Linked DNA regions of Homo sapiens: region 2 is reported to be linked to region 1. The links are microRNA targets in miRTarBase. Many come from high-throughput screens and were not tested one by one. Region 1 holds a microRNA gene; the other region holds the end of a gene's coding sequence.

Region 1 (5,370 bases):
GTTGAATAGCTACCTGGAGAGTTTTGTAAGAATGTGGCTTCATTCCATAGAATACTTCCATGGTGGCCACCGGGGAGGGGTCTATCTTCTTGGAACAGTTAGCTCTTTCGTTATGTTCTTGGACACCCCTGCTACCCCTAAAAAGAAGTGTACCTGGCTATTGAGAAATTCTATCATTCACAGAACAGACATTTTTCTGGGCGGGAGTGGGCAGCTATGATTAGTGAGAGGAGGAGCCTAAAGGTCCGAAGGTGGGAAGGGGTGGCCATAACCCAGGGGAGCACAGTCAGGCCTGGGAGGAGTTACCAATCATGACACTTTGAACGAAGAATCAACAAGATCTGTTGATTGCAAGATATTCTTCTATTAGTCTGGCTTCCCATGCAACAACTATACAACAGGTGCTGGGTTGGTGGTGAGGGTTTAGAAAGTTGATTTTAGCCTGGAGCTTGCCTTCTGGGAGCTGACAGTCTTATAAGGGAAATAAGACAAACCGAACATAGCTCCAATTCCAGACAAAGAAGGAAAGGAGACTATGGGTCAGGGCAGGCTTCCTGGAGGTGAGGGGCTGAGCTGGGCTTTGAAGAGTGGTGGTGTCTGAGAGTGCTAGTGAAGGATGACACCAGGGTTTTGACTTAGTAGTGCTAGTGACAGAGATGGGCAAATCTGCTGGGATTAGAGCATGTGGTCCAAATGTAGGTGGAAAGGAGAAGTCCTGCAGTTCCTGTTCTTTGGTAAGTGGTTGACTTGGGGGTCACAAGGTGACATTTACAGGCATCAGAATGAATGGATTCTTAGGGAGGAGAGAGAGGAGGAAAGTTTCCGGTAGGAGCCAGTTCTTAGGGCTCCAAGGGAGGCAGACACCCAGGAGCAGCAGATGCCGTGTCCTGGGTAGGAACACGAAGGGCCCAATGAAGCTCTTCCTTACTAGCAAGGCGGCTGTTGATTGTTCTGGCCCCAAACATTCACCACTCAGGCCATCTCAGAGAAGCAAGAACCCAGGAGGTGTCAGCGGCCTCAGCCCACAGGGGATCCAGGAGAGAGGGGCACGAGTGCACCCCACCTGGTTCCCTCGTGGCGACTCCATCCTGCGGGCCCTGGGAATGCACAGGGTGGCTCCGGGGACCTTTCCGACAGCACTGTGGGTGACACTGGGATGGGTCTGAAAATGGTGTCGTGTCCTCCTTTTCTGGATCTCCCCTCTCCGACCAGGAGGCCTGTGGCCATCTCGGGGCGCAGGCAGGAGGCACTGGAAGCGGAAGCGAGTGGGGAGTCCGGGTAGAGGGAGTCGCCCACCTGACCGGCTTCGCCCCCTCCGGGGTTTGCTGCAGCTGAGGGCCCCGGACCAGCGATTCTAGAAGCCGGTCCGGGGCCGGGCAGTCCAATAGCTTCTCGCGGATTTCCCTCCGCTGGCGCGCAGCAGCGGCGCGTGGATTCGCGCGCGGGCTCGGGACGGCGCGAGCCCGGGCAGCGCGAGCCCCTGCGCGGCAGGGAGTGGCGCATGCGCGGGCGTCCTGCGAGCCCGCTGGGGCGAGCCGAGCCGCGGCGGCGCCGGGAGCCGGGCGGCGGAGCTGTGAAGAAGCAAGCGGCGGCACGGGAGCAGCGGCGACGGACAGGTGGCGAGCCTTCGCCCGCGCCGCCAGGGGCTGCTGGGCCACCCGCGGAGCCTCGCGGTCCAGACGTGGCGGGGGTGGCGGCGGCATCCCGGACGGCCTGTGAGGGATGCGCCGCCCACTGCCCCGCGCCGCCTGACCGTCCCCGCCTCGACTCGCGGTGCGCCACAGCCGGGCCCGCGGCCGTCCCCGCCGCGTTGTCGCCCGGTCGCCGCGCCCGCGGGGCCGCGCCCGGCACGGCCATGTGGACCCCCACGGAGGAGGAGAAATACGGCGTAGGTAGGTGAGGCTCAGGCCTGGCCGTGGCGGGGGTTCTGGGGGACGCGCCCAGCTCCCGGCCCCGCCTGGATTCGCATCCTCGTGCCCCCGCCACTGCCCGCAGGCTGCGCGGCCTCGGCGCGGGGCGAGCGCGGGGTGGGGGCAGGTGCGGGTGCGGGTGCGGGTGCGGGGGTGGGCGCGGGTCTCTGTGCAGAGAGGGCGGCAGGGGGCGCTGGCGGTGCGGCCTTGGCAGGTGCGGCCCGCGGGAGGGGTGGGCAAGGCCCGGGCAGTTGCCCGAGGTTTCTGGTGTGGGCCACGGGGCAATTTTACCCGATAAACCAAATTCTGGGAATATGTTTTCTCCCCTCCAAAAGCTCGATTTTAATGAGTTTCCGCACCTGAATTGATGAGCCCGATGGCTGTTTATTTTTGATCTGGAACCTTACAAGAAAACGGATGAAAAACGTTGACATCATTTTCCCAGTTCAAAAATTTGGACATTTGACTGCAAATGTTTGATCTGTTTTAATTTGTTTTGCCTTTAGTATTAGAAATAATACCTTACGATGGGAAATGTTTTTGGACATGTATCAATGTTTATACGGTTTTTTTTTTAAACCCTGTTTTCAGATGAGACCTTATTCCTCTTAGAAACCTTTTTTTAATGTTGTAAGTGTTAAACTCCAGAAGCTAAATAATTCTTACAATATTCAACTTCTTTAAAAAGAATATTCAGTAATTTAAAGTATTGAATGTTTTACAATGTTAGTGTTTTGTGGCAATTACATGATAGAGTTAAGCCTCATTGCATCACCTATCATCTTGTTCAGTTAGAAACAGATTTAAAATGTTGAGTGTACAGGTTTTGTTTTTCCTAAGCTCGTAATGGAAAATTTTAGATAGGAAACCTGTCTAAACATAGATTTTTGTTTCCCATCTTTACCGCAATTTAATCAAGATTTAGTTCACAATTCACTACAAAATAACTTGAAACTGCAGTGGTAACGAATGTTTTGGAATGCTATCAGGCAGGTTATCGTGTGAAAATTGAATTTATTTAAATTCGAGGACCAGCAGAGAGGTCTTCTATTCTGGTAGAAGATCTTGTTTTAAAAGGTAACTTTCTGAAACAATTAGGTATGTTAGGATGGAGGTGATAAAGGGAGCTCTGGTCCTAGAGTCTCTATTGAGAAGGAATTGAGAAATGATGCGAAGAGCTGGGATTCACCTCTAGGGACATTTTACCCCTTCTCTTAGAGTATTCCCTGAATACTGAGTTGATTCTGTGAAGTGAGGAGTTGGTGGTTTATCTTCTCCATAACTCGCTCCCAGAACTGCTGAACTAGAATAACAAATAATTGATGTGAGTGGTCAACTCTCCAGTGGCACCCCATGATTGATTTTTTTGGAGGGGGGAGGAGCCCTATTTTGGCGGGGGTGGGGGCGTGGGGGGAGGAGCCCTTGAATAGTGGACAAAGTGGAATTCAGAGTCCTAGCTTCTCTTTACTGGTGGTGTGGGCAAGTAATTTAACATCATTTAACGTCATTTTATTAATGTATAAATTGGGGATAATGTTTACCTATCTTACAGGATTGTGAAAGTGAAATGAGAACGTGCTGAATGCTTAATAGTTTCTTCTTTTCCCTTAGTATTTAGACTAATAACACTAAGTGTGTTCTGAGACAGAGCCAGTGCAAGGTAATCAAGATAGGTACATGTGAATCTCAAAGCACTAGGATTTGGTGTGTGATTTTCCCAGCAAGATGCAACGAAATTCTTGCATTCCTAGGATTGTGTTTTTAGCTTTAGAAAAATTGTTATTCCCTTTGGAGGGCCACAGCATTGGGCTCAGGGCAGAGCTTAATGCTTGCTAAATGAGAGAGACAGTTACACTGAAGACATTTTCATAGCAGCTGTGGTTTAGCATAACTTAGATGCCTTTTCTACCAAACCAAGCAACTCTCTATTTATCTCACAGTCTTCCACTGTCCCTTCCTTAGTTATGATCTAAAAGTTTTTGTGTAAATTGTTTAAAACTCAGGACACATTTTTTTTCATAAGGATGTTAGGGCTACACTTCTAGAACTTTTCATAAAATCCACTTTATAAAGTAGCTTATACATTATACTTATGAGAAAAATAGTCAATTAAAACGGCATTTTTGCTGCATCATTTGATTGCTATGAGGGCTAGCTTGAAAATATAACCATTATCATTTTCCTGTGAGAAAATGTTTGAGTTTCAGCTTTGATTTTTATGACTAACTTGGAGCACAGATTTGTGTCTTTGTTTGTCAACCTATAATCACATAGCAAGGAGGGAAACCCCTTACACTTACTTCCTACCAATTTGGAGAAATTTGTGGAGGAGGGCCTCGAGGGCCTCCTTTTGCCCTGATGTTAGTGAGGGAAGGAGTCCCCTGTTGCAGCAGTACAAAGGGTTTTTTCCACTGCAGCTGTTCATTTGTATTTGACATTGATAAGGCTTTGAGATCCTGTAGTAATACTTATTAAATTTTTTATAATATAGGAATTCTGTACAGGTTATAACATGACTGAATTGTTTGGTTTATTCATTTAGGATGAGGTGATGACTGAGCCCCCCTTTCCATTGTAATATTCTGTGAGTGATTTTAGGCAGTGGGGAGGACATTATCCTTTCTGAGGGTCAGTGATAGGCCTGTCAGTGTGCCTGGGACTCTCACTTAGGTAACCCCATGTCGATTCCCAGAGTAGTCTTAATGTTATCATTATTACACAGATAAAGAAACTGGATCCCAAAGGTTGTTAATTTTTTTTTTTTTGTCCTTCAACGATTGTATATTTTTCTTAATTTTCTTCTTGGCAGTGGGCAGTATTTTGTGAAATACTTGACTGTCTTGCTTTCTTTTTGTGGTACTGTAAGGTACTGTTCTTTACTGTACCCGTTCGCCCGTGTTTTGACTTCTTATGTCCCTTTCCCTCTTAGAGAATCTCTGCTTTCCTTTCTGTTGCCATGAATGCTTGGAAAGTCCTGCATCCTTCCATTCTTTATTCTACCTTTCCAAGAAGCTTCCTGCTCTAAAGTGTATTAGGTGAGAAAAATCCAGCTATTTTTGTGAAACACCTGTCTTTCCCTATACTGACTGTACCCAGAGTACCAAATATAGAATACAAAAACCAAGAAAATGCTTTTCTCACCCTCTAACAGGAGCAACAGCAGGAGCAGCAAGCACCAACAGTTTTTAAAACAAAAATGTTTGTAATTACACTCCTTGAATAGAAAAGTGGTAAAGGTTTGAGTACATAGGTATTAGTTTGACGTCTTAGAAGTGGAAGCTGCTTCAGAAGGTCATCTTGTTTATTCTGCTGCTGTCATTAGGCAATTTTTTTTTTTTGAGAGGTGGGGTCCTGCTCTTGTCATCCAGGCTGGAGTGCAGCGGCATGATCATAGCTTACTGCAGCCTTGAACTCCTGGGCTCAAGCGATCCCCCTGCAGCAGTCTCCCAAGTAGCTGGGA
Region 2 (5,370 bases), not on the chromosome of region 1:
GAGCCTATCTCAAAAAAAAAAAAAAAAAAAAGTGGCTGGGTGCAGTGGCTCACGCCTGTCATCCCAGTACTTTGGGAGGCTGAGACCGGTGGATCACATCAGGAGTTTGAGACCAGCCTGGCCAACACGTGAAACCCCATCTCTACTGAAAATTAACTGGGCGTGCTGGTGGCGGCACCTGTAATCCCAGCTACTCGGGAGGCTGAGGCAGAAGAATCGCTAGAACCTGGGAGGCGGAGGTTGCAATGAGCCAAGATCGCGCTACTGGACAGGCTGAGGTTCAGTTTCTACCATGTTCTCTACCAGCTCTGTGCCCATAAGACCAGGCACTTGGGAGTTGTGGGGAAGGTATGAGCTCCCAGGCCGGAGGCAAGGATGCTTCAAAGACAAGAAACGGCCAAGCGTGGTGACTCACACCTGTAATCCCAGCACTTTGGGAGGCCAAGGTGAGAGGACTGCTTGAGTCCAGGAGTTCAAGACCAGCCATGGGCAACATGGCAAAAATGTGTCTTTGCAAAAAATACGAAAATTAGCTGGGCATGGTGGTGCATGCCCATAGTCCCAGCTACTGAGGAGTCTGAGATGTGAGGATCACCTGAGCCTAGGGAGGTTGAGGCTGCAGTGAGCTGAGATCAAGCCACTGCATTCCAGCCTGGGCAACAGAGTGAGACCCTGCCTCAAATAAATAGCACCTAGGAAAACAGGGTCATGTTTTATGCACATTAAAATTCAGCAAAATGATCCCAGGTCTCACCTTAAGAATAAAACTTGAAACTATCAACACTTGAAAACATTTTTGCCAGGACGTCGTTCATTTTGGATCCAGGTTGGTGACTCTGTGCTTAGATTGCACATCTGTAATATCACATCCTGCAGCAAAGACACCATCGAGGCCCCCAGCCTGAAAATTGCTCCAGGAAAACCCACCACTCTAGCGTGAAGGCTGATGCAGCAAACACAAGCAAATTCCACTGAGAATTTTTTTTTTTTTTTGAGAAAGTCACGGTCTCTTACCCAGGCTATAGTGCAGTGGCGCAATCTTGGCTCACTGCAACCTCTGCCTCCCGGGTTCATGCGATTCTCCTGCCTCAGCCTCCCAAGTAGCTGGGGTACAGGCACCCACCACCACATCCGGCCAATTTTTGTATTTTTAGTAGAGATGGGGTTTCACCATGTTGGCCAGGCTGGTATCGAACTCCTGACCTCAGGTGATCCACCCACCTCAGCCTCTCAAAGTGCTGGGATTACAAATGTGAGCCACCAAACCCAGCCCCCACTGAGATTCTCATTCCTCTCTCCCAGCCCATGGGGTAAGTTTGCCACAAAGCTCCAGAGGAGAGGGGCCGTGGGGACTCCATCCCCACAGTAAGTGAGGCCCCAGCAGCAGATGCACCCCGCCCTTTGCTTCTCTCATTAACTAAGGGTCATCCTCCATCTCCCTCCAACCTGCCTGGGAAGCTAGGACGAAACAATACAGAGAAGCCAGGGCAGAAGGGACAAAAGAAAAGTCCAGTTGACACATCATCCATTTATTATCCTTCAGAGTCTAAAACTTCCTCGTGATACAACGTATAGCCACCCATTCCAGCCTGCTTATTGGAACTTCTATTCCCATCTGGTGGCAAACATTTCTTTTTACATTTGTTTTACTATCAAAGATTTAGAGTCACAATAAATACAAGTGACAGCCTCCACACCCAAAGAGCCTCCCCAATACCCTGCACTAGTGTAACCGTCTATTACACTTTAAGGATTATAAAATTGTTTGCTGTCCTTTTTTAAAAGCTCAGTCCAAGTTCTTTAGGTTAACGTCATGTGCAGCATAGCTCAGCATCAAAAACCCTACGGCAGAGCAGCAAGGATCATCCCTTCTGTGATGAGAATATTTGTATAGAGAAGTCTCTCCCCTGCCTCTACGTCCAATAGGAGAGCAGGAGCCACGGGGCCCAGCGGGGCTGCCACTGGGTTGCCTCATTCCCTCTGCCCTGAAGCTTTTGCTTCACCGAGGTCCGTGGAGTACAGGTAAGACCAGGCACAACTAGCACTGTGGGCTGTTCCACTCTGAGAAGGGCCGCTACAGACCTCGTCAGAGGGGTGGTTCCTGGTCACCGTAGAGTTCCTGGGATGAGGTCAGGACGGCCATAGCTGTGGGAGGTTCCAAGGGCACTTGGCCATTCCAAACCCTACCCCCAACCTCCCCTACAACAGGCGAGGTGTGAACTCTGAGATCTCCCCAGCCCTGTCTACAGAGCAGCTGACAGAGGGAACCGTTTCCAGGTGCTGTTGGAGGTTCATGTCACAGGTAACAGGGGACAGTTACAATCAGTTGGGCTGGGGGCTCCCACATTCTGACGGCTTGCAGGAACCTGATCCTGGTAGGGCTCTCGGGACCAGGACCCAGGCAGTGCCTGGTTTAAGAGGGTGTGCTTTGCTGTGGGTAGAACACCCTTAACATTAATCAATAGCTATCCTGGTGCGTCCAAACCCCACACCCAGAGAGGTACTTAATAATGCCTTCACCTGGAACATCATAAACGTCATAATACAACAACCCGCTTGGGGCTTATCGTAGAGGTTATGCTGCAAGGAACTGAAAGGAAATAATGGGCTAGAGTGTTCGAGACAGCAGAAATGAAGGAAAGATTAAGGCATCTCACACTTTTGCCCCCTGGGGGGAAAAAAAAAAAGTTTACATCACAGTATGTACGTTGTCCCTGATGGAATGCTCCCTGGGGACATGGGGCCGACCCTCTCCCTTTCGAGGGGCAGCAGTCCATATGAACTCACAAGGATGGGTTGACAGCCATCAGCCCTGGAGGAACAGCCAGGCCAGGCTGGGAGAGGTCAGGAGCTGGAGCTGGGGCTGGGGGCCGGCAGGTGCGGCTCGGATCTGGCCCCCTGGTCAGACCCAGCTGACCCAAGCTGGAGCAGGCAGAGGTGACTTCGGTCTGGATGCCTGATCCCCAGCCACTGCATAGAACTGAGGTTGGTTCGCTGGGGAGGGCTTTCAGTGGGAAGAAGCCAGCCTGGGTGCTCCTTCTGGGAGGAGCTGGAAGATCTGGCCCCTGTCATGGAACAGAGAGGGCTAACAGCTCAGGGTCGTAGGAGACAGGTATTTATTTGCCAGGCACACAGAAAAATGCGAGGAATAGAAATGCTTGCATACTCTTGATTTTTTTTTTTTTTTTTGGTGTAAAAAACACACCCTCCCCTCCCACCCCAAAAAACATCAAATTCCTTCCTTTTCCCCAAATCCCTGGATCTTGGAATGAAAGCCACCCTTCCCCAATCTGTCCTCACCTCCTTCAGCCCATCCAAGTTATGCACAAAAAAACAAAAATTAGTGAGAAATTTGGGGATTTGCACAACAAAAAATTAGATAATGTTTTCCAAAACTAGGTCTTCTATGCTGTGTCAAAAAAAGTTTCCTACAGACTGAGGATATTCACACGACAGGAGCCTGGGGGTTAAATGAGCCTTTATTAGAATGTTGTAGCAGTTGTGTTTGAAGGCGGTGGCCCTACAAAAAAAAAATTAAATTAAAGTCCCTAACTGCATGGGTAGGAAAACCAGGGCTGGAGCTCAATTGGAACCAGTGGAGCCCAGAACTCATGGAGACATACGTATGTACGTGGGCACGGGACGCCCTCGCACTGGCATGAAGCCGGCCCAGCCTGCAAGAGACACGGAACGGCTTCTGCCTTTCCTCACGGAACCAGTTTTTAAAGAGTGGGACGGGAAAGAAACAAAAATGAAACTAAAAGCAGACCTGATCCTTTTAAAAACATTTTTGTAGACTCTAAAGGGAATTACAAAAAAAAAAAAAGTCTGAAAGCAAATCCTGACAGCAACCCCTAGGTTTAAGGACAGGTTCTAAACTAGACCCAAACGGAAATCCTGACATCTGTGCGCAGCGGCTCGCCGCACACCTGGACGGCACCTCCTGACCTGCACACACCTGTGCACGCTCACCTCCCAGGAGCAAGGCCAGGGTGGCTTAAGATTGCGTCCATCGAAATGAATAGAAAAAAGGAAAAAATTTAATAAAATAAACCACAACAGAAAAACCCCGCGACAGTCCCCCCTCCAGCTTTCTGCTCAGGGCTGCTGCCGACCGGATCCTCTCCTTCTCCCTTAATGGGCAGCTTCTGGAATCCCTGCTTCTCTGGCTGGGTCTGTTCTTCAGTTTGTTCTTCTGCTAAGTCTGGAAGGTGCGGGGGCGGGGGTCTCCAGAACAAGCAGCAATGGAGGCGTTCAGCTGGAGCGAGGGCTGCCTCGGCCATCCCTGCATCTGTCAGTCAGTCACGGGGGCGGGCCGGCCGTCCCTGCCAGGGGCTGTGGCACCATGAGCCGCCCACCCTCCAGGGCACAGGGCCAGCGGGATGATGCAGCGTACAACAGGGACCCCAGGGTCTGCACGGTTTACTTTTAACTCCATCATCATGAGGTGATTAAAAAAAAAAAAAATCTTTCAACTTATAGATCGCCATGGGAAGGCAGTCAAAGACTGGGAGCCTAAGACAGGGAAAAGCAAAAAAATGAAACACCCCGCTCGGTTCAGAAGCCCCGGGCGCTGGCCTTGCCCATGCGCATCACAGTGTCCAGGGTGAGCCGCCCGTGTGCCGGCAGGGGCTGAACAAGGGGGCCAGGAGCAGAACCAGCCCCCAAGGTCCACTTTTCTGCTGGTGTCGGGCAAACTAAAGGCAAAGAGAGAAAGGAAGAAAGCCCACGGGAAAGGTCCCCCAGCGATGATCCTCGTCTGCCTATGAGGCGGCACCAGCCCCCTAGCCCTGATGAAACTTTGCAGCCAAGAATTGAGGTCTTGCCTCTGCAGCATGGCCGGTGCTTGCTCTTGGGGCGGGCACGGTGTCTTCCCGAGCCAGCGGAGGGTGGTGCAGTGGGTCCTTCTAGACCAGGGGCCAGGTGGGGGAGGAGGGAGCCCGTCTTCCACGGGGCCTGGCTCGCACTATTTCCACGTGGCTGACTGGGGGATGGAGCGGGGTGGGATCATGTCCAGGAGGTACTCTCGCTGGCGGTCCACGGCCGAGGAGCTCTTGTGCACCGCCAGGCTTGGGCTGACAAACGCAAGGGTCCCGCCTGCAACAGAACAGAGCGACCAGCTGAGAAGGCCCTCGTCAGGAGGGCTCCTGGGAGGAGCCCAGCCATAGCTGCCTAGACCCCAGCCCCAATACAGACTAAGGACCCAGGAGCCCTTGCAAACCCACCCACACTACTCCTCAATCAACGTTTCAAATCCCAGGCCCCCCCAGAGCTGAAGAGTATTTAGGCAGCAACTCAATGGCCTTGACATTGCCAGGCTCTGCCAAGGTAATCCCAAGTGTGGGGCAATCATCAGAGGGTGAGCAGCTA

Evidence for each region. The annotated mature microRNA hsa-miR-4787-5p reads GCGGGGGUGGCGGCGGCAUCCC and lies in region 1 at 1,685-1,706, shown strand. An mRNA with a match to its seed (bases 2 to 7 or 8) in the 3' UTR can be bound and repressed. Matches are read on the target gene's strand: a 7mer-m8 pairs with bases 2 to 8, a 7mer-A1 pairs with bases 2 to 7 and ends in A, and an 8mer does both.
Region 2: miRTarBase lists GATAD2A as a target of hsa-miR-4787-5p. Seed matches in the 3' UTR shown: 7mer-m8 at 4,221-4,227.

The regions. Positions count from the first base shown.
Region 1 is chr3:50,673,409-50,678,778 of GRCh38, forward strand. It overlaps MIR4787 (microRNA 4787), which reads left to right and starts at 1,672; the gene lies at 1,672-1,755. It overlaps DOCK3 (dedicator of cytokinesis 3), which reads left to right and starts at 1,519. Exons shown (of 53, transcript NM_004947.5): 1 at 1,519-1,892. The coding sequence starts at 1,856. RefSeq lists a silencer at 1,483-1,772.
Region 2 is chr19:19,505,071-19,510,440 of GRCh38, reverse strand. GATAD2A (GATA zinc finger domain containing 2A) reads right to left here. Exons shown (of 12, transcript NM_001384528.1): 12 at 1,509-5,097. The coding sequence ends at 4,967. Among named protein-coding and RNA genes, the nearest start is that of TSSK6, 7.8 kb to the left of the region's middle. RefSeq lists an enhancer at 4,948-5,370.